7 linked regions of the Homo sapiens genome follow. The protein of the gene in region 7 purifies or fractionates together with the protein of the main gene of each other region. This does not show direct contact. Each region holds a gene or a part of one and is shown on either strand. Other genes may lie near its edges. The genes, in order: POTEI, DHX16, SART3, UBE2B, SPRTN, PLD1 and POLH.

Region 1 (3,505 bases), on a different chromosome or scaffold from region 7:
CCCTTCCTCTGGAAGCTCTGTACCACTGAGGTACGAACCTGTTGCCAATCTGAACACACCTATAAGATGTGGCTGGAGGCAAGTTGAGAAGTCTTACCTAGTCAGGACGAACAAGAACAGGGACTTGCTTCAAAAAGAAAAGTCTGGCCACGTTTTTATAGAGCAGCTGTGCTGTGCTGGGGGTTCACTTCAGCCCCTGGTCCGCCTCAGACACTCTGAAGCCCTAAGGCTGAAATGCCTGGGTCGCCCCAACAGCAAAGATGACAATCTGGTCCTCCCCCTGGGAGCTCTGACTCAGGGAGGCCTGAGACCTCTGTCGGCCAGAGAACAGCAGTCAAGGTAGCCAGAGACCCTGGTTGAAAGACTTCACCCACTGACTAGAAATGTGGTCAGGGACTGACGTAAACAAGAGTCTGGCCACGTTTTGGTAGCGTGGCTGTGCTGTGCTGAGGTACCTCTTCCACCCCTTGTCAGCTTGGGCTCTCCAAAGCCCGCAGGCCAGAATGGCTAGTCACCGAAAGAGCAAAGGTGGGGGCCTGCCCCTCTCCGGGAGCTCTGTCCCAGGAACATTTCACATTTCCATTGGCCAAGGAATGCTGGTGGGGGTAGCTGGAGGCCCCAGTTGGGAGGTCCTGTCCAGTGAGATGGAACAGGATCAGGGGCCTGCTTACAGAAGCAGTCTGGCCATGATTTGGTAAAGCAGCTATGCTGTGCTGTGGGATCTCTTCTGTCCCTCGTCGGTTTGTACTCTCCAAAGCCCGCAGGCTGGAATGACTAAGTTGCCTGAACGGGAAAGATGGCGGCCTGCCCCGTCTTTTCTCTCAGAGTTTTATCTTGTTTCATGGAGCTTAATTTTTAGCCTGTTGATTTTACTGTCTACGTTAGACTTGTTGAGAAAGAATCTGTTCTCTTTTAGGTGAGATAAATGAGAATTCATTGTCTTCTGTAAATAAACCTGTTCATGTCTTGTTCTCTGGAAAGAAGTCTCTTTCAGCTATCTGACTTTGGTCACAATCATGTAGAGCAGCAGCCAGTCTACAATGACGTAATTGAATTTCCATTTCCGGTGTTTCCTCGTTGTGTCTTACATTGTCCAGTTCAGAACTGAGCATTTTATTCTCAGTTGTCAACATGCTAAGCTGTCCACTGTACTGAAATACTGTGCTTCCTCAATTTTTTTTAAGGTGTGCACTTTTATCCAACTCTCCTCAAGTCAGAGTACAGGTAAGCCCTGGCTGCCTCCAGCCACTCTCAGGGAGACCAAAAGCCTTCATACACCCCAAGTTGGGGTACAAAAGAGGGGGGCCACGAAGGCTGATCATTCAAAATAAAACAAAATTAAAAAGTATTAAGGCGAAGATTCAAAAAATTTTGCATTATGTAATCTGCACAAAAGCAATGCTATCACCTCCCCTGTGTGAACTAGGGAGAGGACTGGGCCATTCTCCTTAGAGAGAAGTGGGGTGGCTTTTAGCAGGGCAAGGGGCTTCCTGAAACAATGCGTCTCACAATATTTGGAATGACTATTGAAAAGAAGAACAATGTACAATCAAAGTCCTTGGCCACATTGTAGAACTTTGGAGGAAGCTTCCTCCAACCGACTGCTGTCACCTTCACCATTCCGGTTTTTAAATCCTGAGTCAAGCCAATAAAAAACAAAACAAAAAATGAAACAAGAAAACAAATAAAGCCATGCCAATCTCATGTTGTTTTCTGAGAAGTTTGGTTTTGTCAAGAAAGGGTGTAACGCAACTAAGTCAGAGTCCACCTAGAAGCATTTGCGGTGGACAATGGAGGGGCCTGACTCATCATACTCCTGCTTGCTGATCCACATCTGCTGGAAGGTGGACAGCGAGGCCAGGATGGAGCCACCGACCCACACGGAGTACTTGCGCTTGGGAGGAGCAATGATCCTGATCTTCAACATGCTAGGCGCCAGGGCAGCGATCTCCTTCTGCATTCTGTGGGCCATGCCAGGGTACATGGTGGTGCCGCCAGACAGCACTGTGTTGGTGTACAGGTCTTTGCGGATGTCCACATCAGACTTCATGATGGAGTTGAAGGTAGTTTCATGGATGCCACAGGATTCCATGCCCAGGAAGCAAGGCTGGAAGAGCGCCTCGGGGCAGCGGAACCACTCGTTGCCGATGGTGATGACCTGGCCATCGGGCAGCTCGTAGCTCTTCTCTAGGGAGGAGCTGGAGGCCGCCATGGCCATCTCCTGCTCGAAGTCCAGGGCAACATAGCACAGCTTCTCTTTGATGTCACGCACGATTTCCCGCTCGGCCATGGTGGTGAACCTATAGCCACGCTCGGTGAGGATCTTCATGAGGTAGTCAGTCAGTTCCCGCCCAGCCAGGTCTAGGCGCAGGGTGGCATGGGGGAGGGCATTCCCATCATAGATGGGCACAGTGTGGGTGACCCCGTCACCAGAGTCCATCACGATGCCAGTAGTACGGCCAGAGGTGTACAGGGACAGCATGGCCTGGATGGCCACGTACATGGCTGGGGTGTTGAAGGTCTCAAACATGATCTGGGTCATCTTCTCGCGGTTGGCCTTGGGGTTCAGGGGGGCCTCGGTCAGCAGGATGGGGTGCTCCTCAGGGGCCACACGCAGCTCGTTGTAGAAGGTGTGGTGCCAGATCTTCTCCATGTCATCCCAGTTGGTGATGATGCCGTGTTCCATGGGGTACTTCAGGGTCAGGATGCCTCTCTTGCTCTGGGCCTCCTTGCCCACATAGGACTCTTTCTGATGCATGCCCCCCATCATGCCCTGCTGCCTGGGGCGCCCCACGATGGAAGGGAAGACAGCCCGGGGGGCATCGTCGCCCGCAAAGCCGGCCTTGCACATGCCAGAGCCGTTGTCAATGACGAGCACGGCGGTATCATCATCCATGGTGAGCTCATTCAATTGTAGAGCCTTTAAAAGATTATCATTCTTTTTTTTCACACTTTCAATATCCTCCAAATATTTCTTTTTTCTTAGCTGGCTCTGATGTTTCATTGTGTCTAGCTCCAGTCTTAGCATGGCAATTTCTTCCCGCAACGTACTATTTTCATGCAAGAAGTCTTTTTCTTTCTTACAACTAAGAGAAAGCTAAGTAAACAAAGAGAACTTTTAGTTAGCACTCAATAGATTGACATATCATTATTTCTTCTGAAATTCAAAAATAACATGTATTTGTATAATGAAAGAATCCCCATAGTGGATATTTAACTGGAAAAAAATTGGACAAAACTTCAAACCTAATAAGAGTGTAAATTCCTCCAGTGATTTATTTTTCATCGCCTTTAAATAAATATTTAAACTTTTAGGAATCTGCTCCTAAATTCCTAAAAGTTTAAATATTTATTTAAAGACGATGAAAAATAAATCACTAGAGGATTTTTAAGAATCCCAGAATTAAAAAAGCCTTTTTCTGAGTTACAAAAAACCCAGAGGCATAAAATATAAGATTAACAATTTGACTACATTTTTAAGATTAGGTTTACACTCTGATATCTA
Region 2 (4,318 bases), about 13 Mb from region 7:
GGCTAATCCAGCATTTAGAAGCACAGGACTCAAACCGAAAACAATTCAGACAAAGATAGAAACCAGTGAGGGGGCCAACAGGAGGCAATCTTCAGCCCCAGTTAGATGTTCTTTGGTCTTAAACGGAATGACTGTAGTTTGAGGAAGGGAGAAAAACTGATTATAAAAAGTTAGGACTACAGCATCAGAGTGTTTCTGTAAGGCAAATGTAATCAGGGATGTTTGGCTTTCTGGTACTAACCTCTCTTCACCATGCTGTGTCTCACTTAGTTTCTACACATTTACCTTTGATACAAACTTTTCAGGACACATTATGGATGACAGCAGAAAACTGGCAATATCTATAAGGCCCTTTCCTGCCAGGAGTCCTCCCACTATGACATCATCCTCTCTGTGATCACAACTTCCTCTACTGCAAGGTCAAAGCCCCTCTGGTGGCTGGGTGGGCGTGGTGACTCACACCTGTAATCCCAGCACTTTGAAAGGCTGAGGTGGGTGGATCACCTAAGGTCAGGAGTTAGAGACCAGCCTGGCCAACATGGTGAAATCCCGTCTCTACTGAAAATACAAAAATTAGCTGGGCATGGTAGTGGGCACCTGTAATCCCAGCTACTCGGGAGGCTGAGGCAGGAGAATCATTTGAACCCGGGAGACGGAGGTTGCAGTGAGCTTAGCTCACGCCATTGCACTCCAGCCTGAGCAACAAGAACAAAACTGCATCTTTAAAAAAAAAGCCCCTCTGCTGTTCTACCCTTAAGGGGCCTGGTTCTATTTAGTTGTTTGGCTTTTCTTGTTTGTTCTGTAAAGACTTAAAATGCAGTTTATGATCATGACCTAATCTGGGTACCACAGTCAAATATTCCTTCCATGGAAGAGCCAGATAGATTTTTTTTTTAATATGGGCAAAAAATCAGAGCCATTTGAGCATTAAAAAGAATAATGATGTGAGATTATAAAATACTGAAAAATAAAAATTCATGAGTCCAATTTGACACACACAAACAAAAAACAAGGGAAAAAAATCTGTCACCAGTGAAATGACTGTTACAGCAAACGCCTTACTCTAAAAATTCGTATTTAAAAGGAAACAAACATTTACCCTTTTTAAGAAGGAACTGTAGCTTGTTCCTAGTTGTTGAGGAAAAGCTCTTCTTTATAGACAAATTCTAGCCAATACACGTAACAGGAATGACAGAATCAAAAAATCACCATTTCGGCCGGGCGCGGTGGCTCACGCCTGTAATCCCAGCACTTTGGGAGGCTGAGGCAAGAGGATCACGAAGTCAGGAGATCGAGACCATCCTGGCTAACATGGTGAGACCCCATCTCTACTAAAAATACAAAAAATTAGCCGGGCGTGGCAGCAGGCGCCTGTAGTTCTAGCTGCTCAGGAGGCTGAGGCAGGAGAATGGCATGAACCCGGAAGGCAGAGCTTGCAGTGAGCCGAGATCGCACCGTTGCACTCCAGCCTGGGCGACAGAGCGAGACTCTGTCTCAAAAAAAAAAAAAAAAAATCACCATTTTGCAATCCCCAATAAAAATAACATGTTCAGGAAAGGATTACCAGTGGCTTCTAAAAGCATTTGATGAAAGGCTATTGGTAGAAAGGATATTAATACTAATATATAGATACACAACTGGATAGTATGTCCCCGTGATATGACATAATATGAAGTGCACATCACCGCCCAAGAAGTGTTCCTGCCACAACTGTTTAATCTGAGTGTCAATAAGCTTTAGACCCAATTCCTGCTTCAAAGAAAGCACAGGGCAGAGAAGTACTTAACACCACAAGATAAGAATCAGGCAAATCCAGAATGTAGGACACTGCAAGGTGAGACAGACAGAGAGAGAAACAAACTTAACATCTAAGACCCAAATGCAATGCATGAACCTTGACTGCATTCTTGTTAGGAAAAAGCAGTCATTAAAGTTATTTTGAGGGTAATGAGGGTATCTTTTATTGTAGAGAGATCTTAGTCGATACATAAGAATTACTGTTCAACTTCCTGACTGTGACAAGAGCATTCTGATTTTAGAGGACAATATCTTTATCCTTAGCAGGTACACACTGATGTACTTAGAGATAAAACGCCATGATGTCTAAGACTCTTTTAAATGGTCTGAAAAGAAAAAACATACCACATTTACAATTACAATGCAAATACTACCCATAGTATTAACCATTTTTCAATCTGAATAGTGTCTATGAGTGTTCTTTGTTCTATTCTTTCAACTTCCCTATGTGCTTAAATATTTTTGTAATCGAAAAAGAAAAATTACAGCTGGGCACAGTGGCTCACGCCTGTAATCTTAACATTTTGGGAGACCGAGGGGGGTGGATCGCCAAAGGTCAGGAGTTTGAGATCAGACTGGCCAACATGGTGAAACCCTATCTCTACTAAACATACAAAAATCAGCCAGGCATGCTAGTGCATGTCTGTAGTCCCAGCTGCTCGGGAGGTTGAGGCAGGAGAATCACTTGAACCCGGGAGGCGGAGGTTGCAGTGAGCCGAGATCATGCCACTGCACTCCAGCCTGGGCGACAGAATGAGATTCTGTCTCAAAAAAAACCCGAAAAATTAAATTCAGGCCAAAACAGTAACACCACTACCACCACAACTGCACTGAGATGTCCCAGAAGCCTAACCACAGTCAATTTCAGGAAGAGATATGAGATAAATTGGTCAGGAGAGACCTGGGAACCAGTAGGCCATTCTTAGAACTCCAAAAGTTGGCCGGGCACGTGGTGACTCACGCCTATAATCCCAGCACTTTGGGAGGCCGAGGCAGGTGGATCACCTGAGGTCAGGAGTTCAAGACCAGCCTGACCAACATGGAGAAACCCCATCTCTACTAAAAATACAAAATTAGCCAGGCGAGGTGGCTCATGCCTGTAATCCCAGCTACTCTGGAGGCTGAGGCAGGAGAATCGCTTGAACTCGGGAGGTGGAAGTTGCAGTGAGCCAAGATCACGCCACTGCACTTCAGCCTGAGCAACAAGTGCAAAACTCTGTTTCAAAAAAATAAATAAATGAATTTTAAAAAGTAAAAACGGCCAGGCGTAGTGGCTCATGCCTATAATCCCAACACTTTGGGAGGCCAAGGCGGGCAGATCACAAGGTCAAGAGATCAAGACCATCCTGGCCAACATGATGAAATCTCCTCTACTAAAAATACAAAAAATTAGCCGAGTGTGGTACTGCAGGCCTGTAGTCCCAGCTACTCAGGAGGCTGAGGCAGGAGAATCGCTTGATTCCTCCACCAGGGAGGCACAGGTTGTAGTGAGCTGAGATCGCACCACCACACTCCAGCCTGGCAACAGAGTGAGACTCCATCTCAAAAATAAATAAATAAAAATAAAAAATAAAACAAAACAAATAAAAAGAAGGCTGGGCATGGTGGCTCACGCCTGTAATTCCAGCTCTCTGGGAGGCCAAAGCAGGTGGATCACAAGGTCAGGGGTTCGAGACCACCCTGGCCAACATGGTGAAACCCCGTCTCTACTAAAGGTACAAAAAATTAGCCAGGCGTGGTGGTGTGCGCCTGTAATCCCAGCTACTCAGGAGGCGGAGGTTGCAGTGAGCCGAGATCGCATCATTGCACTCCAGCCTCGGTGACAGGGCAAGACCCCGTTTCAAAAAAAAGAAAAAAGGTTTAAAAAAAAAAAAAAAAAAAAAAAGGAACTTCAAGAGTCTCAAAATTCTATTGGGGTATTGGGGAATCTAAGTGTGACTTTACTTGACAAGACCAGGCCTTTGGAAAACAGCTTACCCTACCTAGTTTCACACCATAAAAAGTCCAGTTTATGAATTACAAGGGCTCTGTCCCTGTCCAGTGAGAAGACACAGGGAGATCACAAAGCCACATAAGGGGTGCAGGAATTAGGTGGTGGGAAGGTATTTGGAGATGGTGTGCCTAAGCTGAATGGTCAGCACATCCCTGTACAGTGGGACTGCTGCCCTGCCCTTGCCCTCCAGCAACCTTCTTGACAACATTCCAGCTGCCTCATATCTCATTAGGACTCAGGAATAGGGAAAGCTCACAATTTCATTCACTAATAGAGTATATTTGATCCTAAAGTTAAGAGTCAAGGAGGACTTATGGGTAGCCTCCTTCCCCCTACAACTTAAGAAGGATCCTTCCCTCAACAACATAAGTCTATCCTCAGCTGGCTCCTAACAACCAAGCCCCTCTTCTAGAAACCTGACCACCCCATCAGCATCCACACTGTGCTTCCTCTGTATCCTCTCTCCCTATACACTCTATCAGAAAGTCTTTCCTTTTGTCTTCTGATCTTGGCTCCCTAGGCCCTGGG
Region 3 (4,318 bases), on a different chromosome or scaffold from region 7:
TTGTTTTCGGGGGGACATGAAGGGGCAAAGGATCCCACAGAGGTACAAAGATTTTTCTAAAACACAGCAGACTTATTTCAAGAAGTATTTAGGATAAATAAAAAGACCTGAAAGGAGAAATGAGAGCTAAGACTAAAAAGGCTGGCAGGAGCCAGTATAAACGATTACTCTCTTGCTTTACAATCCACATCATGACTTGTTAAAGACAGAAATTGCTAAGATTTCTGGGGGAAAAAGTCACCAATACCTAGTCTACATCATTTGCCCAATCACAATGTATCTGGGGAACTGGGACATCTCGCCAAAAGTTGTATTAAGAACATGTTCAGCTCTAAAGTGAAAAACATGTGCTTAAATACCTTGTTTGAAATCAACCCTTCTCCTCAGGTAATCAAGGTATGCCTGCCAAATCTCCACATAATCAGTGGCCTGGATGAAGCCGGCATTCAAAGCTTTCTCGAAGGTTACTGGAGTTGGAGAAAAGTCAGGATTTGTTACCAATTCAAATGGAAACTAATAGAAAGTCACTACATTCTACTGACTATAAAACACTACATGACTTTAAAGACTAATAGATGCAACAGAATGAAATGAGCTAGACAGGAATGTTGAAGACAGAAGTTGCTACAGCACTCTACAGACTGTGTTCTAGAAAAAACTTCTTCCACAAGACGCCCTGCAAGAAAAGTTCCAGATCAAGGAAGTTTGGAGAAAACACTACAACTTCTTAGAAAATACAATGAATATTAGCATGTTAAAAAGCTCTAAGAAGCCACAAATATAACCAGTTCATCTCTCACTCAGAGCCCTTTTTGTCACTACACTCCATAACCCAAAGAAAACCCCAGGGAACACTGATGTAATGACTTTGTCACCGCTCTCTGTTTTTCACTTGGGACAAATAGCTTAGAAGTTCTCCCACAAAAACATCCGCACCAGAAATTACTTGATGATCAACTCCATGTCTCTCCATGGCCAAGAGGTACCGACTCCATAAGGCAACTGTCCAGGGGCAGTTTCTAATAGCGCGGTTATGTACAGATAAAACCAAATCCTTTACTTTCAGTTGTCGATCCTATGATAAAGAATTCCAGAGTTAGGAAATTACACTTTATTAAGCATTCACCATCAACAAGACATTGCCAGCACGACCAAGTGATGAAAGAAATGTCCTTATAAACATCTCTTGTGACCTGGTTTCCTCAACAACAACAAAAAAATCACTAAGGGGAGTGGAGGAGAAGGAGAGGAGCAACTTACAGGTTAAAACAGCCTTAAAAGACGTCAGCCAACCCTACTGGATAGACCTCATTTGGATCCTTTTATACAGACACACTGAAATATTTTATATACACATACTGAAATATTTACCAACGAAATATCATTTCTGGATTTGCTTCAAAGTAACACAGAAGGGACAAGTAGGTGAGACTACAGATCAAAGTAAACTAAAGCTATAAATGTTACTAATTGTTGAAGCTGGGTGAGGGGTACAGAAGTTTCATTTTACTGATCTGTCTACTTTTATATGTTTACATTTTTGCCATAATAAAAAGTTAAAAGAAAAATATCAAGTTGTTATAAGTCCTCAACACAGACAATATGCTCATTTTACTTACAGTTAGTGACCATTTTTAAATAACTTGAAACACTAAAACTTTCTAAACGAGTTGGCAAAGAGGAGAAAAAGCAGATGGAGGAAAAGCAAGAGTAGGGCCGTATGCAACAAACTCCTGGCACTCTTACTGATTTTAAGTAGATTCTAAATTGGCAAAAATAAAATGAAATTAGAACAGTGATCTTACTAGGTACTGACTGTAACGGATCCATAAGTCTGGGACAAGGCAGTTCTCGACCAGGGCGCGCTCAAAGATCAACTGAATGCGAGCAGGATCGCCAATTTTCATCTCAAAATCGATATATGCTTGATATTCTGCCAGCCTTGGTGCCTCTGCCTGCAACTGGAGTACAGGAAAATTGTATTGAATTTAGTTACTGGCAGGAAGCACAACACATCTGCAAATAAAATAAATTTTGGCAAAACTGGCTACAGTAACTATGAATCGCCAAATCCTCACTCTCAGAACCACTCCACTATGGCCTCTACAACTTCTTGAGCAAAACAAGAGTCTTCTCATCTGGTCCAAAGTGCCAGTTCATGGCAGTCGCTACAAAGGCTCCATAAACTCTTTTCTAAATCCATTCCTAGACCACAGGGAATTAAGTAGCCCATCAATCAGGAACTGAGTGAAAGAGCAACACCTTTGCCAGTGACCACTGTCAACCACCCTTCCAAACCAGAAGTCATGTTCTTGGGCTACTGAGTAGAGTTAATACAACCAAACTGGAAAATTTTGGTGCCTGATGCTATTTCAGGTTTCTTATTCCAAATATCAGTTCCTGGAAGAATGTAGATAAATGCAGAAGATGAAGGCAGCTGTGCTGAATGTTTAATGATCCAAAGACATACAATCAAATTCTTTTTAGAAAAAAATCTTATTCGACATGTTTTCTCTTCAGGCACATTTTGCTGATGGCCATGACATAATTGAATGATCGAAGTTTTGGGAAGCACAGGTACATGCAAATCATTTACACATGAAAAAGAAAGGATGAAGCAGTGCAGGAGAGTAAGAGAACACACAGACTCCATATGTAGAAAGGGGATGTTTCAGGGCCTCCATTTCCAGTAACGAGGAAGAATTAGTTACCCAGACACACTGTACCATTCAAAACAACTAAAACTGCTAAATTAAATATAATATCTTCTTAAAAGTCATCAACAAACTGGCAAAGAAACAAGAAATACTAAGGACTAAGGACAAAATCTAAATGAGGGTGGCAAGCTAAGTAAACATTAACCTTTTGCTGGCTTGACGTATATTAAGAATCTGACCTTCACAATCCTATTGTTGGCAAAGAAAGATAGAAAAAAAGAGTCAAGAAGCCCAAAAAACTTCAAGCCAGTCCACACATGGACCTACTGCAGTGAAATTAGAGGACAGCAAACCAAATCAATGAGATCTTAAAAGCAGTCAGACAAAAAAGTGACTACCTCTGAAGAAGCAAGATTTATACAAACCGCTGACTTCTCAACAGCAACAACAGACATCAGAAGACAGAAAGATACAATCAATTGCTGAGAGGACACATTGTCCGTCTAGAATTCTTTTGCTGTTGTCGGTCTAGAATTCTATAGCCTAAGAAAATAATTTTCAAGAAGGGAAGCAAAGACCTTTTTGAACACAGAAAATCTGTTACCAGCAAATCTCCCTTGCAGGGGACTCTAAAGGTCAAGTGTTGAAGACACTGGACAAATTTATAATATTATTATAAAGCTTTACAGAAAGACAAGATATAAGTAGCAGAAACCTATATATGTTCATAGATTGGAAGATGTAAATTATTCCCCAAATTGATCTCCAGGTTCAATGCAATTCCAATTAAAAAAAAAAAGATTTTAAAAATATAACTAGAAAAGCTGATTCTAAATCCGATGGAAGCATTGAAGGCAAAAAAAAAAAAAAAGCCAAGATCCTCTTGAAGAGGAAAAAGGTGGATGGGACTCACCCTATCCAAGAGCAAAACATTATAACTCTCATCATTACAACAGTGTAACATAAACCAGTGGGACAGAACAGAAAATCCAGAAGAAAGACCCACACATAAATGGACAGCTAATCTATGACAGATGTGGCACTGCACATCAGTGAGGGGAAGAAGGAATGATCAAACTCAGTACTAGAACAACTGGTTCTCCATATGGAAAAATGAAACCAGACGCAGTCTCATACCACTCAAAAATCAATCCCAGGTGGATGAGGGCCTAAATATGAAACAGAAAACTATAAAACTTTTAGAAGAAATTAGAGCTAAGTAGGGAATATTTTTTAAATAAGCACAACAAAAGCACAACCAAAAGGGAAAGAATTTTAATCTAATTGATCACTAAGAACTGTTCATCAAAAGACACTGTTAAAAAATAAAAAAGTGAAAAGGCAGTTGCAGTGACTCACGCCTGTAATCCCAGCCCTTTGGGAGGCTGAGGCAGGTGAATCACCTGAGGTCAGGAGTATGAGACCAGCCTGGCCAACATGGCGAAACCCCGTCTCTACTAAAAATACAAAAATTAGCGGGGCTTGGTGACAAGGGCCTATAATCCCAGCTAATTGGGAGGCTGAGGCAGGAGAATCGCTTGAACCTGGCGGGGCGGAAGTTGCAGTGAGCCGAGATCACGCCACTTCACTCCAGCCTGGGTGAAAGCGAAACTCCAGTCTCAAAAAAAAAGAAGTGAAAAGACAAACAACTGGGGAGAAAA
Region 4 (4,318 bases), on a different chromosome or scaffold from region 7:
ACACACACACTGGGCAATCCTATTGACTCCTGTGGCCTCAGTTACCATCCATGTGCTCAGTATTCCCAATCATTGGCCTTAGCCTAGATCTATCTCTCAGCTTCAAAGCCAACTTACTGTCCATCCCACAGAAACATCAAACTTAGCTGCCCAAAGCAAAAATTAGTAACTCTGTAAAACCCATAAAAGTGTAAAACAATTTTAAAGTTCTGAGTAACTATTTCTGAGAATCCAAAAGTAAATCAGAACTCAAATATCTTATCAACTAATGAACAAAATACAGAATATCCATACAGTGGAATATTATTCAACAATAAAAAATGAATCACAGATACTATTATATCACAACATAGATGAGCCTTGAAAACTTTATGCTGGGTGACAGAAGTCAGTCACAAAGGACCACATAGTATAAGATTCCATTTATATGAAATATCCAGAATAGTCAAATCTAGAGGGAAAACACGTTAGGGGTAACACTTACCTAGGACTGAAGCGGGGAGGGTTAAGACAAACAGAGTTGACTGCTAAGATAATAGTTATGGGGCTTTTTGTTGTTTTTAAAGTGGTCATGGTGATGGTTATGATTATGCTAAAAACCATTTGAGTTGTACAATTTAAGTGGGTCAACAGCTTGGTGTGTAAATTATATTTCAATAAATGTTTTTAAAAAAATAAACCAGAAAGTTAAATTATAAAAAAGTACTCAGCAGAATAAAAGGGAAACCATGCTATAAATATGAAGAGATGTGAAAACCAAATACACTGTGGTTTCTTAAAAATTTGCTTAAGTGATAACCCTATATTTATATCCCTTACTCATTCTACAGTCTTTCCCACCTTTATTTAAAGACCCCCTTATCATAATTGGTTTGGTTTGACTCAATAACAAGTCTAAGCAAGATAAAGCTACAGTGGAATAAATGGTAAATGACCTGGGAACTTCCCCAAAAAGAGAAACAGAAAATAAAATTAAACCTGTCTTGGACAAAAAAAAAAGCAAAAAAGGCAGCTAGAAGGAAAAAGCAACTTCACAGAAATGAAGTGCCAAAGGTAGTATCTATTACTGGAAAGTCACCTTGATTCCAGACACAAACGAAACACATCTCTCCTCTGGGTAGGGAGCTCTATAATGTATTCTGCAGTACTAGAGACACGACCAAGAGGACCTCTGAAAATGTTCTTCCTGAAAGTGAGTTGGCTGATGGGGAACGCCACATTTAAATGAGCAAAGGCTGTGAGACTGAAGAGGAGCTTCAAGAATTTGGAGAAGTCTTTCACATGGTAATTTATAATACAGAAATATAAATGTAATAGATGTAAACAGCAAGATGTCAAGGAAGACCAAATTTATTACAAAGGAATTAGCCATCGTTTAGTGAAGAATAGTAACAAACTACTCTATGAAGTGAAAATGAGAACAATTCCACTGAAGGAAAAAAATGGAAAATGACATTAAAAGCTTTAAAAACACACAAGCCTCTGACCCAGTAATCCCCACGTTTAAAAAACTTAGTCTAGTTGTTATGCAGCAATTAAAAAAACAAACAAAAAACTCAATCAAAATAATAATTAGTATCTGAAAAGATTTATTTTGAGGCCGGGCACGGTGGCTCACACCTGTAATCCCAACATTTGGGAGGCCAAGGCAGGCGGATCACCTGAGGTCAGGAGTTCAAAACCAGCCTGGCCAACATGGTGAAACCCCGTCTCTACTAAAAATATAAAAATTAGCTGGATATACAGCTTTGGGAGGCTGAGGCAAGAGAATCACTTGAACCCAACAGGCAGAGGTTGCCGTGAGCCGAGATCATGCCACTGCACTCCAGCCTGGCCGATAGAGCAAGACTCTGTCTCAAAAAAAAAAAAAAAAAAAAAAAAAAAGCTGGGTATGGTGGCACACATCTGCAGTCCCAGCTACTCAGGAGGCTGAGGCAAGAGAATCACTTGAACCCGGGAGGTAATGGTTGCGATGAGTCGAGATCACACGACTGTACTCCAGCCTGTGTGACACAGCAAGTGTTTTTCTCAACAACAAAAAAATTTTTAAGATTTTTAAGAATGTTCAAAGTGCTATTTAAAATTGTAAACAACTGAAAACTATCAACAATTGGACACTGGTTAAAAATATGATAAATCTATGTAACAGAACATTTTGCCATTAAAAATGATGTATCAGAATATTTATTTTTTTGAGATGGAGTCTTGCTCTGTTGCCAGGCTGGAGTGCAGTGGCGCGATCTTGGCTCACTGAAACCTCCGCCTCCCGGGTTCAAGCAATTCTCCCGCCTCAGCCTCCCGAGTAGCTGGGACCACAGGCATGCGCCACCATGCCCAGCTAATTTTTGTATTTTTGGTAGAGATGAGGTTTCACCACGTTGACCAGGATGGTCTTGATCTCTTGACCTCATGATCCACCTGCCTTGGCCTCCCAAAGTGCTAGGATTACAGGCGTGAGCCACTGCACTCAGCCCAGAATATTTATTAAGGAAAATGTTCACAGTATATTAAAAAAACAAAAACAAACAAACCAAAAAAAACACCTTATTTTATATATAACATCCCAATTTTCTTTTTTTTTTTTGAGATAGGGTCTTGCTTTGTCACCCAGGATGGAGAGCGGTGGCACAATCATGGCTTGCTACAGCCTCAACCTCCCAGGCTCCAGCAATTCTCCCACCTCGGCCTCCCTAGTAGCTGGGAATACAGGTACGCACCACTGTGCCCAGCTAATTTTTGTATTTTTTGTAGAGACAGGGTTTCACCATGTTGCCTAAGCTGGTCTTGAACTCCTGGGCTCAAGCAATCCACCCTCCTCAGCCTTCCAAAGTGCTGGAATTAATAGGCATGAACCACTGTGTGTGGTCATTGACTCCAACTTTGTATATGCAAAATTGTACTTTTGAGATAGAATCTTGCTCTGTTGCCCAGGCTAGAGTGCAGTGGCACAGTCATGGCTCACTGCAGCCTTGACCTCCTGGGCTCAAGTGATCCTCTCACCTCAGCCTCCATAAGTAGCTGAGACTACAGGTGTGCGCCACCATGCCTTGATATTTTTTTTGTTTTTTATAGGGATGGGACCTCGCTATGTTGCCCAGGCTGGTCTCTGACTCCTGGTCTCAAGCAACCTTCCCACCTTGGCCTCCCAAGGTGCTGGGATTATAGGTATGAACCACCACGCCTGGCCAAAATTGTATTTTTGAAAAGCTTAATTTTAGCCAACAGATTTTTCTTATTTTTCACAATTCCACAAATAAATAGATAATACTTTTATCTATTTCTTTTAGTAGAGACAGGATCTTACTATGTTACCTAGGCTGGCCTCAAGCCACCCTCCTGCCTTAGCCTCTGGAGTAGCTGGGACTACAGGTGTGCACCACTGTGCCTGGCTTACATATTACCTTTGTTTTTTTGGAGACAGAGTCTTGGTTTGTCACCCAGGCTGAAGTGCAGTGTTGTGAGCTCAGCTCACTGCAACCTCCGTCTCCCAGGTTCAAGTGATTCTCCTGTCTCAGCCTCCTGAGTAGCTGAGATTACAGGTGCCCACCATCATGCCTGACTAATTTTTGTATTTTTAGTAGTGATGGGGTTTCACCATGTTGGCCGGGCTGGTCTCAAACTCCTGACCTCAGGTGATCCGCCCACCTTGGCCTCCCAAAGTGCTGAGTTTATAGGTATGAGCCACCATGCCCGACCATGTATTACTTTTAATTCAGGAGTTATTAAAACAACTTGACCTCAAATTTGGAAGCTTTGTAAGAGTCTAGCTACAGAAACATAGCTAAAGGCTGGAAAAAATGGCCCATTCCTGTAATCACAGTGCTTTGGGAGGTCAAAGTGGGAGGACTGCTTGAGGCTAGGAGTTCAAGGACCAGCCTGGGCAACACACAGAGACTTTGTGTCTACAAAAAAGAAAAAGAAAACAAACAAAAAAATTAGCTGGGCATGGTGGTCCACACCTGTCGTCCCAGCTAGTTAGGAGTCTGAGGCAGGAGGATTACTTGAACCCAGGAGTTTGAGGTAACAGTGAACTGTGACTGTACCACTGCACTCCAGCAGGGGTGACAGAGTATAACTTTGTCTCTGAAGAAATAAGAAACAAACCAAAAATCCACAACAAACCCAGCACTTTGGGAGGCCAAGGTGGGCAGATCACAAGGTCAGGAGATCGAGACCATCCTGGCTAACATGGTGAAACCCCGTCTCTACTAAAAATATAAAAAATTAGCCAGGCGTGGTGGTGGACGCCTGTAGTCCCAGCTACTCACAAGGCTGAGGCAGGAGAATGGCGTGAACCCGGGAGGCGGAGCTTGCAGTG
Region 5 (4,318 bases), on a different chromosome or scaffold from region 7:
TGGGAGGCCGAGGCAGGTGGATCACCTGAGGTCAGGAGTTCAAGACCAGCCTGGCCCACATGGTAAAACCCCGTCTCTACTAAACACACAAAAATTAGCCAGGCATGGTGGCGGGCGCCTGTAATCCCAGCTACTCGGGAGGCTGAGGCAGAGGCAGGAGAATCACCTGAACCTGGGAGGCAGAGGTTGCAGTGAGCCGAGATCATGCCATTGCACTCCAGCCTGGGCAACAAAAAAAAAAGAAAGAAACAAAGAAAGAAAGAAAGAAAAGAAAAGAAAAGAAAAAGAAAAAGACAAAGTACAGAAGAATGTACATAGTATTTTGTGTAAGAAAAATTTTGTATGGTGGGGAGGAGGAATAAAAATGAATAGAAATATTTGCAAAACAGAAAAATGAAAAGAAACTAACAGCTCCTACAGCAAGTAAGGAGTTCAAGATAGAGGAGGACACTGAACAAGACATCTTTGTGTATAGCTTTCTACAGCTTTTGGGTTTTGATTCAGAAATCATGAAAACTTGAAACAAACACTAAAACCTACTGCTCATTCCACACCAAAGATGCACAAGTTTCTGTGCAAAATTAACAAAAGCATTTAAGATTGCTGGGGTTTTTGCTCTAAAAAATATAAATAATTTTTTTAAGCAAAAATCAGAAAGATCTTCAAAGACATACCTTTTTCATGATCCTCCATAATTTTTTTAAAAAACAATTTCCATCAGAAGAACTAGACTGTCATTAATGAATTTTAGTCTTATAAAATTATGCTGAACAGAAAAATGAGAGAATCAAACATTTTAACTTGGTCATTCATATATCCCTCTAAAAATTATCAACTGTATCTCTTAAAAGGAACTTTATTTATTTATCTTATTATTTCTCAGAGATGGGGTCTCACTTTTTCACCCAGACTGGAGTGCAGTGGCATGATTATATTTCACTGCAGCCTCAAATTCCTGGCATCAAGGGATCCCTCTATCTCATCCTCCTGAGCAGCTGGGATTACAGGCGCATGTCACCACACCTGGCTAATTTTTTTTCAATTTTTTGTAGAGACAAGGTCTCACCATCTTACCCAGACAGGTCAACTCCTGGGCTCAAGCAATCCATCTATCTGATTACGTGCATGAGCCACTGTACCCAGCCAGAACTTTATTTTTCAAGTAAATGCCGCTCAACGAAGAAGACTCAAATTCAAGAAAGGTACTGCAAAAGTTTCTCAATGTTCTAAATTAGAGCAATGATAAAGATCTATTCTCATAAAGGAGAAACAAATTTAGGTTCCTGATTTTTGGTTCAATTTAATTAAACATTAAAAAACATCTTGAAAATGGTACTGAACTTTTTAAATATCTATCATTTTCCATATTTAGTCTTAATTCAAGGATCTATACACAACACAGTCCCAAAATACCTCTGTTTTCCATGACTGTTCTATCGGGTTAAAATGAACTACCTCTAGTCCTAAATATGCCCCCAGTTGTCTGAACTCACTTTTGTTCACATTATTCCCATGCTTTCTGCCAAGAGTAGCCTCCTGTCCTATCTCTGCTTGTCAAAAGTACAATTCGTCCTTTAATGCTCACCTCTCCATGTTTTAATCGCAGGAGTGATGAGTTGAATGGTAAAGGGGACAGAACAAGAGCCTTAGAGTCAGGGAAACTGGAACCTAAACCCACAATCACAGCATGAGACCTGGGACAGGCTCCAAGTGGCTCCTCATCCCTAAAATGGGATATCCTCATTTTGCATGGCTGTGGTAAAGACGACGTTTAGTCCAAAGTCTGACACACAATAGGTGCTCAATAGTGAGCAGCAGGAGTGGTGATGGTAGTAACAAAATGTACAGTTATAAAGCTTTTCTTGACCTCCTCAACCAGATAAAGTCTGTTCCTTTTCTGAACCCCCTTCTCTATGATTTAGGTAACTACAGTTGTGCCTCACTTGGCAGGGATATGTTCTGAAAAATCCATTGTTAGGCAATTTTGTCATTGTGCAAACATCTTAAGAGTGTACTTACACAAACCTAAATGGTATAGCCTATGTAATATATATATATATATACACACACCTAGGCTATAGAGTATATATACCTAGGCTATAGAGTATATATACCTAGGCTATAGGGTATATATACCTAGGCTATAGAGTATATATACCTAGGCTATAGAGTGTATATACCTAGGCTATAGAGTATATATACCTAGGCTATAGAGTATAGCCTGCCGCTCCTAGGCAACGAACCTGCACAGGATGTTACTGTACTGAATGCTGTAGGCAAGTGCAACATAATGGTAAGTATTTGTGCAACTAAATATAAAGAAGAAAAAAGGTACAATAAAAATATAGTCTTGGCCAGGTGTGGTGGCTCACGCCTGTAATCCCAGCACTTTGGGAGGCTGAGTCGGGCGGATCACGAGGTCAGGAGATTGAGACCATCCTGGCTAACATGATGAAACCCCGTCTCTAGTAAAAAAAATACAAAAAATTGGCCTGGCATGGTGGCGGGTGCCTGTAGTCCCAGCTATGTGGGAGGCTGACGCAGGAGAATGGCCTGAACCCGGGAGGCGGAGCTTGCAGTGAGTGGAGATGCGCCACTGTACTCCAGCCTGGGCAACAGAGCGAGACTCCATCTCAAAAAAAAAATAAATAAATATAGTCCTGGCCGGGCATGGTGGCTCATACCTGTAATCCCATTCACTTTGGGAGGCTGAGGCAGAAGGATCACCTGGGGTCAGGAGTTTGAGACCAGCCAACATGGTGAAACCCCGCCTCTACTAAAAATACAAAAATCAGCCAGGCGTGGTGGCGCACACCTTTAATCGCAGCTACTTGGGAGGCTGAGGTAGGAGGATCCCTTGAACCAGGGAGGCGGAGGCTGCAGTGAGCCGAGATCATATCATTGCACTCCAGCCTGGGCAACAAGAGCAAAACTCCATCTCAAAAAACAAAAAATAAAAATAAATAAATAAATAAAAATATGGTCTTATAATCTTATGGGACCACTGTTATATATGGGGCCTGTCATTGACGAAAATGTCATTTTGTAACTTTCTGCCAACAGGAAATGCTCACTTGATACTATTATACATTCCCCATTCTCTTCTCACCCACTACTTAAAAACATTTTTTTCTCATGTGTTTATGTAATCATTTACCCAATACATATTCATTAAGCAACTCTTCCAGTTAGGGCTCCTTCTAAGGCTGATTTGGTTAATCATGCTGTTCAACTTTTTAAAATGTGTATTATTTTTTTCCGCTTATTCATTGGGTTACTAAGAAGGTTGTGTTAACATTCTTCAAGTATGAGTCTGGGTGTCTTGGCTGACACCTGTAATCCCAGCACTTTGGGAGGCTGAGGCGGGAGGATTGCTTGGGCCTGGGAGGTTGAGGCTGTAGTGAGACAGGGTCTTGCTCTGTCACCCCAGGCTGTAGTGCTGTGGTGTGATCTCGGCTCACTGTAACCTCCACCTCCCGAGTTCATGCGATTCTTGTGCGTCAGCCTCCTGAGTAGCTGGTACTACAGGCTGTGTCACCACACGCAGCTAATTTTTGTATTTTTAGTAGAGACGGGGTTTCACCATGTTGGTCAGGCTGGTCTCAAACTCCTGGCCTCAAGTGATCCGCCTGTCTCAGCTTCCCAAAGTGCTGGGATTATGGGCGTGAGCCACCGCACCCAGCCTGATTGTATATTCTTTTTGCTTCTGCTAATTTATGCCTCATAAAATTTAAAGTTATGTTATTACTTTTGGAGAGATTATGTATTGTTGCTTAATAGATTATTTTATTATTATAAAATATCCCACTTTTCCTCTAGTAAAACTTCTTCCCTTGAAGTCTTTAGTCTGATACTAATACTGGTTGAACATCCCTAATTTGACAATCCAAAATCTGAAATGCTCCAAAATCTAAAACTTTTTGAGCACTTACAAGATGATTAAAGGTTAAGTTCTAAGGAAATGCTCACTAAAGCCATTTCAGATTTGGGACTTTTGGATTAGGGAAGCTCAACCAGTAAGTATAATGCAAATATTCCAAAGTAAAAAAAAAAAAAATCTGAAACACTTCTGGTCCCACTTTGGATAATGAGTACTCAACCTTATAGCCACAATAGTTTTCTGCTTTTAAGTGTTTGGATGATTACTTTTCCTCATCCTTTTAAACTTAAAATAAGTGTGTCTTTACTGTAAGCATGTCTCTTTTAATCTAGCATGCCATTCCATGTATTTAATGGAGTGTTTAGTCCACTTACATTTAACTGATATTTTGTTTACACCTACCTTTCTCTTTATCATCTGAGCTCTGTTCTTTTTCAT
Region 6 (4,318 bases), on a different chromosome or scaffold from region 7:
AACTATGTGCTGATCTTTTCCTTTTAAGCAATATTAAATAGGTAAGTGAGGGAAAAATTATTTTTGCAATTTAGTTGAGACAGGCTTTTCAAATTTGAATGTCTCGTCACAAGGGATAATATTAAGCTGTTTCTAAACTGTTCTTAGGAATGCAATGGATAGGATGTGTAAGATTCATCTAGTGCTGTTAAATAGCTTGTTATCTAATAGGTGAGCATGAGTTTTAAATATTTTACAAACCTAATATTTTAGTAATTCATTGAGGGAAGATACTCCTACTGCAAGAGTCATCATTGATCCACAGACGAAATACAGGTCTACAAACCCTTAACCACGATTCTAAATTCCAAAAAATTTTGAAAACCAAAATATTTTTTAAAATATAACTTGTTCAGTGCCTGTATTGGAACTGGCCTTGAACATATGTAGAAATTCGGTAGGTAGAGACTAAAAAGGTAGAAAAACAGGCATTTTAGGTAGATACTACATCTTAAGACCCAGATATAGGAAATGCAAAAGTATTTATTTCGGCATCTCAGACTGAGTGTAGAATGTGGTAAATACATATAGGTCTATAATCTCTCATACAAAATCCTTGGAATCAGATTTCAGAAATCAGAAAGTTCTGGATTTTAGAAAGGTAATACAATACCTATACCCTCTACTATATTACACTCCCAGCAGGATCCAGGAAATACCTGGAATGTAGGCAAACCATTTATGTTTGTGCAACACCAAGTGGGATCAATAAAGATAATAAATAACCTCTTGTCAGTTCAGGTCAGATTTTGCTGACCTGTGAGTTATGAAATGAGCTGTGAAAATCAGCTATGAAAAAACATTTGAATTGTTAGAACTTTTGGAGTTTTGGAATTGTGGTTAAGGGCTGATTTGTGCAGATTGAGCTGGTGGGATATATCTGTAGCAGTTTACGGAGGACTTTGAAAATCAGACTGAGACATTGCACCTCTTCCATTAAATGTTGGAAAATCCCTAGGGGCAGGGAGCAATTAAGGGTGAGGCTTTATAGCGTTTATAGTAGAGACACAGGGAGTCTGACAAGGTTGTGTCAGTGAGTTCAAGAACGAAGTAAATGGGAGAAACTTTTTCCAAAAGCAGAATCAGCAGATTTTCATCATGATCTGGGAAGCCGTGGGGAGGTGGGTGGAGAAGTCAGCGAAGAATAAAGGAGCCAAAGGTGATTCCGAGGTTTGAGCTTGAGTTACTACACACAGACAGCAGAAATCTCAAGGAAAGACTTGATTTTATGGAATGATGATGATTTTAGTGTTAGACATAATTTTAAAGTTCTGGAGGGAACTAGGTAAACAATGTCAAGTGAGGCACTGGAAGTGACCTTAGATTTGGAGTCCAAAACAGAAGCCATCCTTGCAGGTGCACATTTTAGAAATTGTATAGAAAAAGACAGGAGAGGCCGGGTGTGGTGGCTCACGCCTGTAATCCCAGCACTTTGGGAGGCCGAGGCAGGCAGATCACGAGGTCAGGAGTTCGAGATGAGCCTGGCCAACATGGTGAAACCCTGTCTCTACTATCAAATACAAAAATTAGCAGGGCATGGTGGTGTGCGCCTGTAATCCCAGCTACTCGGGAGGCTGAGGCAGGAGAATTGCTTGAACACTTGGCCCTGGGAGGCAGAGGTTGCAGTGAGCCGAGATCGTGCCACTGCACTCCAGTCTCAAAAAAAAAAAAAAAAAAAAAAAAAAGAGGAAGAAAAAGAAAACAAAAAGACAGGAGAAAGGGGGAAACCTTGTTAGTGAGGAGGAGCTAGGAAAGAAGAACAAGGATAGGCTGGAGAAATGGTAGAAAAATGGAGACCTGGAAGCCGAGAGATGAGAATAGAAGGAGGAGGATGTGGCACGACCAGAGGACACCAGGCAAGGAACAAGAAGTCCCCCTTCTCATAAACTTTAGTAGCCAGAATCTGAGCCACTGACAGAGGAGGATGCAGAAAATTGGCCTGACAAATCTGTGCCAAAAGACAAGGCAGGTGCAATTATGAAATCATTTGGGAGCCAGATAGCAGCCTAACGAGACCCCCTTGGATCAGCATTGTTGATGCCATAAGTCCTCTCGACCACACTCATGTAATTCTGAGCTACTGTTTTCACAGGAACTAGTATTTGGCTCTATTGCCTTAATAGTTCATTTGTACTGAGGAGGAACCCTAATTTATGTGGAATAGTTTTTAGGCCATGGCTAAAAACAAAAACAAATTTGAATTATGAGCAGGTTGAATTCAATTAGTACCAAGATAATTTCCTGAGACTAAGAATTTCCTTTATTTTCCTTATCATAACTGGTTGTTAGGTGAAAGATAATTTTTAAATGAGTGTATATGTGTTTATGTAAAGCCTTAGCTTAGAGTTTTGCAGTTGATGAAAGCAAATTGTATATGTGTATTTTATATTTGAAATTTGAAATATTGTTTATCTCATTTTTCATCCCTTTTGTTTCTTTTCTCACCCTCTTTTCTTCTTTTAACAAAGTGCTATGTAAACAATAAAGAGCCTATAGATGAGCAAACAGACCTACCCGTACTTTGGCCTTTCAGTCTCATAAAGCAGGAAAATAAATCACTGGGAGAAGTCAATAGAAGTCTATTTTTAACATGATTTCATTTTGCTAATCTATGGCATTTTAAATCATTTTTCTTCTGTAGAAAACTTTAATAGCCTTTGAAAGGTTAATGATTCAGTTTGAGATAGAATATTAGCATTGTGTGTGGTGATTACATAAAAACATTTGTTCTGCAAATATTTATTGATTGCCTGGGTGCTTGGAGCTACTGGCAGTGAGAAGATTTGGTTCCCACTCCCAAAGAGTTTATAGACTGGTGAGGCATTGATGCGGGCAGGGGAGCATCCTGATACAATTGCGTCACAGAGTCAGAGGTGTTGGGGCAGTTGTTAGTGGGATGACAGCAGTGCTAGTGACTGCCTCTTCCTTATGGGGAGATGGCAGGTGATAGCTAATGTGGCTCTTGAAGGATGATTAGGATATCAGGCCAAGAGGGAGAAAGGAGCATTTCAGGTAGAAGTAATAATGTGCCAACTGCATGGAGACATGGCAGTCCACACCTGTTATAATACAGTGAAACACGTGATTTGCATGGGGCCTGGGGTTGGGTGGGGAAAAACAAGGACTAGAAAGATAGATTGGCACCAGTTTGGGAAGAGTCTTCTATGCACACTAAGCCCTTAGGACTTGAGCTTCCTATAGGCAGTATGTGAACCTTCCAGGGTTTTAAGCAAAGAGTGCATTTTACAAAGACAGTTCTGGGACAGTGTGTTGGTGGCAGGACCAGTGTAGTCCTCTCACTGGCTACTGCAAGCAGTACCATTTATTCATTCAACACATATTTTTGCATTCAGTGTCTATTTGTTAAATGCCTCTTTTGTGCCAAGTGCTGCGTTTGTGATTTGTAATTCTGCATCTTTTTACTTCATTGTCTTTGTATTTAGCCGTAAGTCAATGGTCTCGGCACAGTTATTTGTGAAATGCTATAGTAGATTGCTGCTTTTGCACCTATATCATAAGCTTTCATCTGTTGTTACCATATTTTTTATAAATGCCATCTATGATTTGAAGTATATAAATGTTAAAGCGCAACAGATTTTAGCTGTTATCTAGGCCAAATTCTTCATTTTACGCATAATGGATTTATGATCTAAAAAACTGAAGCTCAGTGTCACTTAGCTAATTAATTCCAGGGCTGGAACATGGGCTATCTGTAAATTTGAGGTTCTTGCTTTAATGCAAAAGAATTATGCATCAGGTGTGCACCATGTTGGTTGAGGAAAAAGAAGTGGCATGGTGTCTTTATTGCCCCTGCGTCTCAGGTTTCTCCACCTCTCCCCTCCCCGCCCTTCCCACTCTGCCCCTGAAAGCCCCCCACCAGCTTTACTGCTCTCATAGTGCCACCTTGTGAGTTCTTTATTCACAGTTAATTCTGTGATAGTTCTTCCAGTGATCTGGTAGGTGGTGGAAATAAGTTACTCAACTGCCTGAGAAGGTCAAATTTCATTGTTTAATGATGAATCTTGTTGTAGCCCTAACTGCCCACTAAAAGTAAACTTGTAAGGACTGTAAAACCTTGTTAGCCCACAGCCTGTAATAGAATGGACAGATGCCACCCTAGTTGTGTCTTAAGAAATTAAGAAGCTTTTAGGTGTTTAATAAATGAGAGTTGAGCCTCCCTTTCTGGGACTCACCTGAACCACAGTCTCTGAGGGGGTCTTGCTGCATTCACAGATACCGGGTCCATCCGTAGTTTACAGACAGGTGTGGGAGAGCTGCA
Region 7 (4,318 bases):
AAGCCAAACCATAATGAGATACCATTTCACACCCACTAGAATGGCTAAAATTTAAAAAGTCAGTAACAAGGATGTGGAAAAATTGGAACCCTCTTACATTGATGGTAAGGATGTGAAATGGTGTAGCCACTGTGGAAAACAGTCTGGCGATTCCTCAAAATGCTAAACATAGAGTTAACATATGACCCAGAAATTATACTCCAAGGTATATGCTGGAAAGAAAACAGGTGTCTACACAAAAACTTGTAGATGAATGTTCATATCAACATTATTCATAATAGCCAAAAGTGGAAATATACTCAAATGTCCATTCACTAATAAGTAGATAAGCAAAATATGGTATATATTAATACAATAGAATATTATTCAGCCATAAAAAGGTGTCAGTCCTGGCCGGGCGCAGTGGCTCACGCCTGTAATCCCAGCACTTTTGGATGCTGAGGCAGGAAGATCACAAGGTCATGAGATTGAGACCACCCTGGCCAACATGGTGAAACCCTATCTCTACTAAAAATACAAAAATTAGCTGGGCGTGGTGGCGCGTGCCTATAATCCCAGCTACTCGGGAGGCTAAGGCAGCAGAATCACTTGAACTGGAGAGGCGGATGTTGCAGTGAGCCGAGACTGCACTACTGCACTCTGGCCTGGTGACAGAGCGAGACTCCGTCTCAAAAAACAAAAACAAAACAAACAAAAAATGACTAAGTACTAATACATGCTACAATACGGCTGAACCTGAAAACATATTAAGTGAAAGACTTCAAGCCAGTCACAAAAGACCACATATTTTCACAAAAGACCACATTTATATGAAATGTCCAGAACAGTTAAGCAGTGTAGTGGTTGCCTAGGGCTGGGGAGTAGCTGGGAGAGAAATGGGGAGTGACTGGTAATGGGCACAGGATTTCTTTTGGGGGGTGATAAAAATGCTCTAAAATTGTAGAATAGTTGTAGAACTCTGCAATATACTAAAACCACTGAATTATTTTAAATGGGTGAATTTTGTGGTATGTAAAGTATATGTCAATAAAGCTATTTAAAAAGGAGAGAGAAACTGCCGGGTGCGGTGGCTCATGCCTGTAATCCCAGCACTTTGGGAGGCCAAGATGGGCAGATCGCCTGAGGTCAGGAGTTCGAGATCAGCCCAGCCAACAAGGTAAAACCCCGTCTCTACTAAAAATAAAAAAATTAGCTGGGTATGGTGGCAGGTACCTGTAATCCCGGTTACTCGGGAGGCTGAGACAGGAGAATCGCTTGAATTTGGGAGGTGGAGGTTGCAGTGAGCCAAGATTGCTCCACTGCACTCCAGCCTGGGCGATAGAGCGAAACTCAGTCTCAAAAAAAAAAAGGAGAGAAACTAATCATCAGATGTCTTTAACATTAGAAAGAAAAATGTACAATGCTCAGAATTTTTTTTTTAAGTCAAATATACAGAGATAGAGAATAAAACAGTGGTTACCTGGGATGGGGGAGGGGAGGAGGAAATGGGGAGATGTAAGTAAAAGGATATAAAGTAGCAGACACGTAGGGTGAACAAGTCTATTGAGCTAATGTACAAGTGAGGACTATAGTTAATAAAATTCTATTAGAGATTTTAAGTAGATTTTAACTACTTTTTTTTTTTTTTACAAAAAAGTATGTGAAATGATAGATACGTTAATTTGCTACACTATAGTAACCATTTTACTATATGTATCCCATAGCATCATGTTGTAAACATCAAATATACACAATAAAATGTGCTTAAAACTGCCACTACTGGCTGGGCGTGGTGGCTTATGTCTGTAATCCCAACACTTTGGGAGGCTGAGGTGGGCGGATCACCTGAGGTGAGGCATTCAAGACCAGCCTGGCCAATATGGTAGAACCCCGTCTCTACTGAAAATACAAAACAAAAAATTAGCCGGGTGTGGTGGTATGTGCCTGTAATCCTAGCTACTTGGGAAGGTGAGGCAGGAGAATCACTTGAACCCAGAGGCGGAGGTTGCAGTGAGCCAAGATCATGCCACTGCACTCCAGCCTGGGCAGCAAGAGGGAAAACTCTATGTCTCAAAAAAAAATTAAAAAATTAAAAAATTTAAAAAGATTTCTTAAAATTTCCTTGGCTGGAGTTCAAGACCAGCCTGAGCAACCTAGCAAGACCCTGTCTCTACAAAAAATAAAAAAATTTAGCCAGTTGTAGTGGCATGCACCTGTAGTCCCAGCTACTCAGGAGGCTGAGTTGGGAGGAGAGCTTGAGCCTAAGAGGTAGAGGTTGCAGTGAGCCATGATTGTGCCAGTGTACTCAGCCTGGGAGACAGAGTGAGACCATGTCTCAAAAAAAAAAAAAAAAAAAAAAAAGAAAGAAAACGGATATTTCCTATGCTAATACTTTTTTCTGTCTTTGTTCCTGCTCCATAAGGTAAAGAGCAGCTGATATGTAAATTGCAAAGCCCACCCCAGGAATAAAGAAAGAAAATCTTACATCATTTCGGTCTTTAGTCAGTCTCTCCTCTAGTTCCTGGGCTAATTGCAACAGCCACCATTGTACCTAAAAAAGTATTGAGACTTTAATCTTTCATTTAAACACTCGAAGTCTATTAAGAACTAGATGGTGTTATTTGTTCTTTTTTTTCTCCCAAACAGAATTGTGCACCAAAGACTCCCCATAATCAAAGGATCACCAGATCATAGAAATGTTCCCAGTCCTTCTGTCCTGCCCTAGCTCAAGCCTTTCATTTTCTTTTCCTGCTTGTTTGCCATCAGGTGACTTTCAAGCATGTTCCAGCTCTGAGAAAAAGACAAGACCCAAACTTGAAGCATAATATCCTAGGCTTTCCAAGTCTCCATCTACTAAACAAATGAGAAATTCCATTTTATTTCGATAGACGAAAGAGAAAAAAGTAATAATCATAAACTAGTCAATTTTCAACCCAAGGACAGAACATCTGTTTTCTTCATACTTTATAAAGGTCTCCTCTAACCTATTAAACCTTCCACAGCTACCAAAACCTACCCACTGACCCCTTTAAAAGAGGTAGTGTTCTGTCAAGAATGCCAGCTTACCTGTTCCCGAGTAGCAAGAGCTGTTTTTCCTGGGAAGTTCTTACTACAGCCAATGGTTTTGGGTAGTTGCCTGGGTTTAACTGGATCATGTTCAATCCCTCGGCACATGGCATATAGCCAAGACCTAATAAGACCAGCAAAAAACGTTAAGGTGAAATTAAATGATTATTCTTGTTAAAACAAAACCAAATAACTATATTATATTGCCCTTTTATCTTTTTCATGAAAAAGGAAAACCTTGTCCAAAATTTAGTGTACCGGACCTCTGACGAAACCCCTGCCCTTCTCAGTGAATTCCAGTGCAATATATGGACAATGAGAACACTGGTTTTGTCTTCTAAAGCCAAGTCATCATTTGTATTTTTGGAAAAATGCCAAGCAAGCCACTGATTCATATCCCAAAATGTGTGTGTGCTTGCTAGGGCATTAAACACAAGGATTTTAAGAGAATATAGCATCTCAGCATGCATGAATGATGTAATTAGTATATACTCAGGCATCAAAGTAACAAATCTTATCTATCAACCACCTAGGTACATGGAAAAAACTACTCTAGACTGATGGGCCATAGTGACCCAAGATATTGAAGCAAGAAGAACCAGTGAAATAATCTCAAGAAACAAATGTTAACCTAAAGATAGGTCTGGATTTTACTAGATGGTTTTGTCTATATTTGAATATAGCATCTCCATAAAGGTTATGATTTTAAAAAAAATGAATCACTTACCCATTCTTCTCCCCAAAATGACTCTGGAGCTGGGATTCAGTGAACTGGGTCAGTTCACCCATGTATTCTATCCCTAGGATCTCAATGACAGAGGCCCCTAGCTTTCCTCCAAGACTACGGCTGATAACAAAGGAGACAAAGAATTGATAGGTCACATCATAACTATCTAATTAGCAGCAAACGTAAGACATTCTACTTTGTAAACAGCTCTCCAAAAGGTTCAGGACAAATGAGAGCATATATTCTGGGAATTCAGTTACTCTGGGAGTTAGAATTTGAGAAGAAGATTAAAAATAACATAACCAAAAGGTTAAAGTCCTTGATTAACTATCAAGTAAACTGTATATAAAACGTTCAATTGTACAACGCCTGCTGTCCTGTTTGGGGATTAAAATCCCAAACACAAAATAAATCCCTTCCATGGCTAAAACTTTACTTAAGAATATATAATCTGGCCAGGCACAATGGCTCACACCTATGATCCCACTTTGGGAGGCCAAGGCGGGAAGATTGCTTGAGTCCAGGAGTTTGAGACCAGCCTGGACA

Evidence for each region.
Region 1: the proteins of POLH (region 7) and POTEI purify together in Homo sapiens (affinity purification with mass spectrometry; 2 studies listed by BioGRID and IntAct, with this or other methods). This does not show direct contact.
Region 2: the proteins of POLH (region 7) and DHX16 purify together in Homo sapiens (affinity purification with mass spectrometry; one large-scale study listed by BioGRID and IntAct). This does not show direct contact.
Region 3: the proteins of POLH (region 7) and SART3 purify together in Homo sapiens (affinity purification with western blotting; one study listed by BioGRID). This does not show direct contact.
Region 4: the proteins of POLH (region 7) and UBE2B purify together in Homo sapiens (affinity purification with western blotting; one study listed by BioGRID). This does not show direct contact.
Region 5: the proteins of POLH (region 7) and SPRTN purify together in Homo sapiens (affinity purification with western blotting; one study listed by BioGRID). This does not show direct contact.
Region 6: the proteins of POLH (region 7) and PLD1 purify together in Homo sapiens (affinity purification with mass spectrometry; one large-scale study listed by BioGRID and IntAct). This does not show direct contact.

What each region holds. Positions count from the first base shown.
Region 1 is NC_000002.12:130,461,048-130,464,552, forward strand, and holds part of POTEI (POTE ankyrin domain family member I), read right to left. Parts: intron 3,098-3,505; coding exon 1,769-3,097; 3' UTR 1-1,768.
Region 2 is NC_000006.12:30,666,086-30,670,403, forward strand, and holds part of DHX16 (pre-mRNA-splicing factor ATP-dependent RNA helicase DHX16), read right to left. Parts: intron 1,243-4,318; exon of another isoform or gene 1,100-1,242; intron 729-1,099; exon of another isoform or gene 1-728. UniProt on the Homo sapiens protein: Required for pre-mRNA splicing as a component of the spliceosome. Contributes to pre-mRNA splicing after spliceosome formation and prior to the first transesterification reaction.
Region 3 is NC_000012.12:108,537,129-108,541,446, forward strand, and holds part of SART3 (spliceosome associated factor 3, U4/U6 recycling protein), read right to left. Parts: intron 1,962-4,318; coding exon 1,806-1,961; intron 1,076-1,805; coding exon 937-1,075; intron 468-936; coding exon 360-467; intron 1-359. UniProt on the Homo sapiens protein: U6 snRNP-binding protein that functions as a recycling factor of the splicing machinery. Promotes the initial reassembly of U4 and U6 snRNPs following their ejection from the spliceosome during its maturation.
Region 4 is NC_000005.10:134,381,040-134,385,357, reverse strand, and holds part of UBE2B (ubiquitin-conjugating enzyme E2 B), read right to left. Parts: intron 1-4,318. UniProt on the Homo sapiens protein: E2 ubiquitin-conjugating enzyme that accepts ubiquitin from the ubiquitin-activating enzyme E1 and transfers it to a E3 ubiquitin-protein ligase. In vitro catalyzes 'Lys-11'-, as well as 'Lys-48'- and 'Lys-63'-linked polyubiquitination.
Region 5 is NC_000001.11:231,341,071-231,345,388, reverse strand, and holds part of SPRTN (DNA-dependent metalloprotease SPRTN), read right to left. Parts: intron 1-4,318. UniProt on the Homo sapiens protein: DNA-dependent metalloendopeptidase that mediates the proteolytic cleavage of covalent DNA-protein cross-links (DPCs) during DNA synthesis, thereby playing a key role in maintaining genomic integrity.
Region 6 is NC_000003.12:171,677,649-171,681,966, reverse strand, and holds part of PLD1 (phospholipase D1), read left to right. Parts: intron 1-4,272; coding exon 4,273-4,318. UniProt on the Homo sapiens protein: Function as phospholipase selective for phosphatidylcholine. Implicated as a critical step in numerous cellular pathways, including signal transduction, membrane trafficking, and the regulation of mitosis.
Region 7 is NC_000006.12:43,603,466-43,607,783, reverse strand, and holds part of POLH (DNA polymerase eta), read right to left. Parts: intron 3,893-4,318; coding exon 3,773-3,892; intron 3,170-3,772; coding exon 3,046-3,169; intron 2,531-3,045; coding exon 2,465-2,530; intron 1-2,464. UniProt on the Homo sapiens protein: DNA polymerase specifically involved in the DNA repair by translesion synthesis (TLS). Due to low processivity on both damaged and normal DNA, cooperates with the heterotetrameric (REV3L, REV7, POLD2 and POLD3) POLZ complex for complete bypass of DNA lesions.